Linked DNA regions of Homo sapiens: region 2 is linked to region 1. A link means that fine-mapping ties the variant in region 1 to the expression of a gene that starts in the linked region. Tissue or cell type: subcutaneous fat. Region 1 holds a variant in brackets; the other region holds the start of a gene. All regions are shown on one strand. Distances are between the middles of the regions.

Region 1 (2,918 bases):
TTGAGATGGAGTCTGGCTCTGTCGCCCAGGCTGGAGTGCAGTGGCTCACAATCTCAGCTCACTGCAACCTCCGCCTCCTGGATTCAAGCGATTCTCCTGCCTCAGCCTCCCAAGTAGCCGGGATTACAGGCATGCGTCACCATGCCCGGCTAATTTTTGTATTTTTAGTGAAGACAGGGTTTCACCATGTTGGCCAGGCTTGTCTTGAATTCCTGACCTTAGGTGATCCGTCTGCCTTGCCTTCCAAAGTGTTAATATTACAGCCGTGAGCCACTGCGCCCAGCCCAATCTACCAATCTATCTATCTTATCTATCTACTCTATCTATCTAATCTATCTATCTATCTATCTATCATCTATCATCTATCTATCATCTATCTATCTATCTATCATCTATCTATCATCTATCTATCATCTATCTATCATCTATCATCTATCTATCTACCTATCTATCTATCTATCATCTATCTATCTATCATCTATCTATCTATCTATCATCTATCTATCTATCATCTATCTATCTATCATCTATCTATCTATCTATCATCTATCTATCTATCTATCTACCTATCTATCTATCTATCATCTATCTATCTATCTATCTATCATCTATCTATCATCTATCTATCATCTATCTATCTATCTATCATCTATCTATCTATCATCTATCTATCTATCATCTATCTATCTATCTATCATCTATCTATCTATCTATCTATCTATCTATCTATCTATCATCTATCTATCATCTATCTATCTATCTATCTATCATCTATCTATCTATCTATCATCTATCTATCTATCTATCTATCTATCATCTATCTATCTATCATCTATCTATCTATCTATCTATCTATCTATCTATCTATCTATCATCTATCTATCTATCTATCATCTATCTATCTATCATCTATCTATCTATCATCTATCTATCTATCATCTATCTATCATCTATCTATCTATCTATCATCTATCATCTATCTATCTATCTATCATCTATCTATCTATCATCTATCTATCTATCTATCATCTATCTATCATCTATCTATCTATCTATCATCTATCTATCTATCTATCTATCTATCTATCATCTATCTATCTATCTATCTATCTATCTATCTATCTATCATCTATCTATCAACTATCTATCTATCATCTATCTATCTATCTATCTATCTATCTATCTATCTATCTATCTATCCCTTTTACATAGTTAGTATTCTCTTCAATCCACTCAATATTTATTAAAGATTTAGTCAAGTGTCCAAAAATACTCTCACGTTTAATCAGGATGACCTCAGGTCATCCTCAGTTGCATCAGGTCATCCTGATTAAAGAAACCTCCATGTTTGTTTGCAACTGACAAAGCCTAAACTAACCAGTTGTGGTGGACTTTGCAAAAAGAAGGTCTTGGAAAGAGAATGATCTGATTTGCTTAGCCTCCCTAAAAGGAATGCAGCCAGATTTGGTGG[T/A]ATGTGCCTGTAGTCCCAGCTACTCAGAATGCTGAGTTAAGAGGATCCCTTGAGACCTGGAGTTCAAAGTGTAGTGCACTATAATGGCACCTGTGAATAGTCACTACTGTCCAACCTGGGCAACATAGTGAGACCCCATGTCTTAAAAAAAAATAAAATAAACAGGTTGGGAGCGAAGGCTCATGCCTGTGTTCCCAGCACTTGTGGGCCAAGGTAGGTTGATTGCTTGAGCCCAGGAGTTTGAGGCCAGCCTGGGCAATATGGCAAACCCCATCTTTACAAAAAAATACAAAAATGAACTGGGTGTGGTGGCACATGCCTGCAGTCTCAGCTACTCTGGAAGCTGAAGTGGGAGGATCCTTGAGCCTGGGAGGCAGAGATTGCAATGAACTGAGATCCTGCCACTGCACTCCAGCCTAGGTGACAGACTGAGACCCTGTCTCAAAAAATAAACAAATAGGCTGGGCGCAGTGGCTCATGCCTGTAATCTCAGCACGTTGGGAGGCCGAGGCTGGCAGATCACTTGAGGCCAGGAGTTCAAGACCAGCCTGGCTAACATGGCAAAACCCTGTTTCTACTAAAAATACAAAAATTAGCCAGTCATGGCAGCGTACTCTTACAATCCCAGCTACTTGGGAGGCTGAGGCATGATCAGGAGGCTAAGCTGGGCGTAGTGACTCACATCTGTAATCCCAGCACTTTGGGAGGCCGAGACGGGTGGATCACTTGAGGTCAGGAGTTCGAGACTAGCCTGGCCAAAATGGTGGAACCCTGTCTCTACTAAAAATACAAAAATTAGCTGGGCATGGTGGCAGGCACCTGTAATCCCAGCTACTTGAGAGGCTGAGATAGGGGAATCGCTTGAGCCTGGGAGGCGGAGGTTGCAGTGAGCTGAGATTGCACCATTGCACTCCTGGGCAACACAGCAAGACTCCATCTCAAAAAAAAGGAAAGGAAAGTAGAAGAGAGGAGAGGAGAGGAGAGGAGAGGAGAGGAGAGGAGAGGAGAGGAAAGGAGTCTGAATCTGAGGCAGGAGAATCGTTCGAGCTCGAGAGGCAGAGCTTACAGTGGAGCCAAAATCATGTCACTGCACTCCAGCCTGGGAGACAGAGGGGAAACTGTCTCAAATATAAATAAAAATAAATAAATAAATAAATACTAATTAAAAAAATAAACCAAACAAATCAAAGAAATGCAGAGAGCAAGAATTTGGCAGTGTCTGTCAAATATCACCACGCACACACCATTTTATATTCTACTCCCTTATACCCTCTACCTCATTCCATTCATATTAATTTGCATTTTCAATATTTTTCACTTCTCCCTATTTTGAGTGGGTTCCCAGTTTCTCTCAATGGGAGAAAGTACATCTTCCATTGCTTTCCTGGGACTGGGGATTTTTCCCAGGCAAAATTTACCAGCAATAGAGTCAAAGCCTCCTCTTGGG
Region 2 (2,918 bases), 30 kb before region 1:
CTAACATCAGTGCCCTTTCTTCCTCCTCCCTTACCCCTCCCAACTCAAACAAATTAACATTTGTACTAGGTACCTCCTATCAGCTCGCAGCTTCTTCCCAAACACGCCCACGTACACTGAAACTGGCTTGCGTCTACACAACACACAGCTACAGGAAAAGAGCTTCGAGGGGGGAGCTGGGGCGGGGGGTTAATAATTCGCTCCGCACAGGTTTACGGCTATTTTCCAGAAACTAGTTCCTCGCTCGTGGCTCGCGTTTCTTCCAAATCACCTCAAAAGCACGGTGTTTATGAGCCTACCTAATCCGATACTGCAATGGAATTCCGGATATTTGCAGACAGATCTCCCGGCTTTGCAAGTGTTTGATGAGATACGTTCGGAATCTCCTTTTTTTTCTAGAGCCCGGTTCCAGGCCGTAGAGCAAGCCGACCTGGGGCTGCGGCCCCTGCCCCACACCCGGCCCGCGCGCCCGGCCCGAGGCCAGCACAGGACGCAGCCCCTCCGGGGCCGGGGCTGGCGGGGGCCGCTCGGGCTGCGGGCCGCTCTGCAACAGGTCACCCTGACCGCGACTCCGCGGGTTCGCGGGCGGCCAACTCTGCGGCCAGGCTTCTGGGCGCAGCCGCCAGGGCCAGGGGAGGGGGTGTGGCCCGGCTTCTGCTGGTCCTGGCTCCGAGGTCCGGGATCGGGCTCACCTGAAGGAAGACTGAGGCGCCGCTGGGCGCCAGAACAGAGCGGGCGGAGGCTGGGGGCTTCCGCCACCCAAGAGGGAGAGCGAGGCGGGTTCAAGGGGTCGCAGCGCCCCCGGCTTCAGGACGGCGCCCCCGAGCGGGGACCCCACGGCCGCTCCGACTCTGAGAACCCGCGGCCGAGGGAGGCGCGCCGCCCAGCGCCCTTCTCCCTCAGCCTCAGCCCCAGCTCCGCAGCCCCCTCCCTGCGCGCAGGGCGAGCAGCCCCGGGGCCCGCGGCCGGGAGAGCCACACTCCGCAGCGCCGCCGCCGCCATTCCCCGCGCCGCCCGGGGGGCGCCGCGTACCCACCCTCCCTCCCTCCCTCCCCCGCACCGCCCCGCGGCCTGAGCCCACCGACCTGTGCAGCCGCGGCCGTCGCCTCAGAGGACGGAAAGACGATGCCGGCCTCACGCTTCACCGCCACGGCCGCCGCCGCCTAGAGTAGCACTCGTCGACCCGAACAGTCACCGTCTCTCATTCAGCGCCCGCAGCAGCCGCCGCCGCCGCCGCCGCTGCCGCTCGGGGGAGGAGAGTGAGCTGGAACCACCCCGTCCGCGCCAGGGGTGGGGGACGAGAGCGGACCTGGCGGGGGCGCGCGCCAAGCGGGCGGGGCGGAGCCGCGCGCGCGCGCGCACCAACGGAGCGCGCTCGCGGGGGCTCTGAGAGCTGCAGCCGTCAGGGTCTTAACCTCGCGCTTCCCGCCCGCAGCTTTTCGGCCCCGCGGAGCCCAACTGCCGCCGGTGATCGGTGCCCGCAGCGCGCGCAGCCATCCGCAACCCCACCGCCCGGCGCCTGCTGAAAGGAGGGGCTCCCACCGGCCAAACAACGGGGGGGGGAAGGGGTAGGAGGATGGACAGGTGGGGCGTCCGCCACCGCCTGGCCACCCGCTCCCGGAACGCGGCCCTCTGTGAAATCCGCCGTGATGTCTGTGGCCTTCAGCGCCGGGCTCTTCACCTTTAAGGCCAGAGAACAAAGTCTGGAAGCACTTGGCCCCAAGATCAAATATCCAGCCCACGCCAGCGGTGTTTTTAGAAGTCACTGAGGACAAATGAGGGGGCTCCCAATGTGGAGAGTCACCCCACTGTCTTAGATAAGGTCATAAATTATGGTGATCAACATCCTCACACATTAAGATTCGGGAAGTGTTAGAAGTAGGCCTTTGTAAGATGTTACGCAGGGTACTACCCTTGACTTAAGGAGCAAATGACAGAAATTGGGCGGAAAGGTGTTGTTTCAGAGTCTACTAAATGGGTGGCCTACTTAAAGCTAGCACCATTTGATGCAGTGTGACTGTTAACGGAAGGTTTTAAGTGAGCCGCCTTTGTATCTGCTGTCATTAGACCATTTGGAAATGGATAATTATTTGATGATCTGCAGTTCTTTCTCTAGGCAATGTGCAGTAGAATGTGGAAAGAATACTATGTACCAGCATTAAGTGTAAAACATGAAAGGACCAATAATTCACTATTCCCATTTGGTTTCTTTCTTCCCTTTAATAACCGCTAAACAGAACTGATTAATCTTGAACGTTGAAGATTGCTAATTATTTCCTCCTTTGATTGCCTTCTGTCATAGCCCTTTTACTCTAGTTGGGGACGCTAGAATGCCCTTCAACCTCCTTCTCTCAAATAGGGTTACTTTAAAGCACCCCAACGCAAAGTTAAGTCAAAAAGAAAAACAGCGAGGATAGGCAACAAAGTTCGTAGTGTTTCATTTTTATTCCATTTTACTTTCAAAGAAAGTCTTGAATCATGACGAAATCACTAGAAGAAGTAGAGCAATCAAAAGAAGAAAAAAAGCGTTCCCCCCCACCCAATATTTCAAATGACAAGAGTCCAAAAAAGAAAAGAAAAAGGAAGATGATTGGTAAAAAGGAGGGAAGTGCATTATGTATACAGAAAGTTTTCGCATAGATGTTAGTTGCTTCAAGTCCCAAATAAACAACAACTAAATGAATTAGCACTTGGAGGAAAAACCCCTTCCAGTTATTGAGTTGGGTAAATGTTTAGTCTTCTTAAAGTGTTACTAAGAGATTAAGGAAAATGTCGTTGGCTATATGCCAACAATAATACATGCAACATACATACCATTATCACACATAATTAACTGCTCTTAAGAAATATGAAAACTGAGGAACGGAACTCTTATGTTGTTAAATGTCATACAATTACTTGAAACTTGAATTAGGGTT

Alleles and levels. Positions count from the first base shown, and alleles are read on the strand shown. Sizes are in standard deviations (SD) of each study's normalised expression.
In carriers of allele A in region 1, the expression in subcutaneous fat of the gene that starts at base 1,261 in region 2 tends to be higher than with T alone (moderate effect, 0.57 SD a copy in GTEx).

Evidence for each region. PIP is the estimated chance that this variant, and not a neighbour inherited with it, causes the effect.
Region 2: it holds the start of RALGPS2, and the variant in region 1 is fine-mapped to the expression of RALGPS2 in subcutaneous fat (GTEx, PIP 0.94). The same link has a PIP of 0.9 or more in thyroid.

The regions. Positions count from the first base shown.
Region 1 is chr1:178,693,770-178,696,687 of GRCh38, reverse strand. No RefSeq gene overlaps it. Among named protein-coding and RNA genes, the nearest start is that of MIR4424, 17 kb to the right of the region's middle. The variant T/A (reference allele first, on the strand shown) is at 1,472.
Region 2 is chr1:178,723,587-178,726,504 of GRCh38, reverse strand. RALGPS2 (Ral GEF with PH domain and SH3 binding motif 2) reads right to left here and starts at 1,261. Exons shown (of 20, transcript NM_152663.5): 1 at 1,086-1,261. It overlaps RALGPS2-AS1 (RALGPS2 antisense RNA 1), which reads left to right and starts at 221. Exons shown (of 1, transcript NR_187252.1): 1 at 221-2,918. RefSeq lists silencers at 452-681, 882-1,001, 1,262-1,431, 1,333-1,487 and an enhancer at 322-911.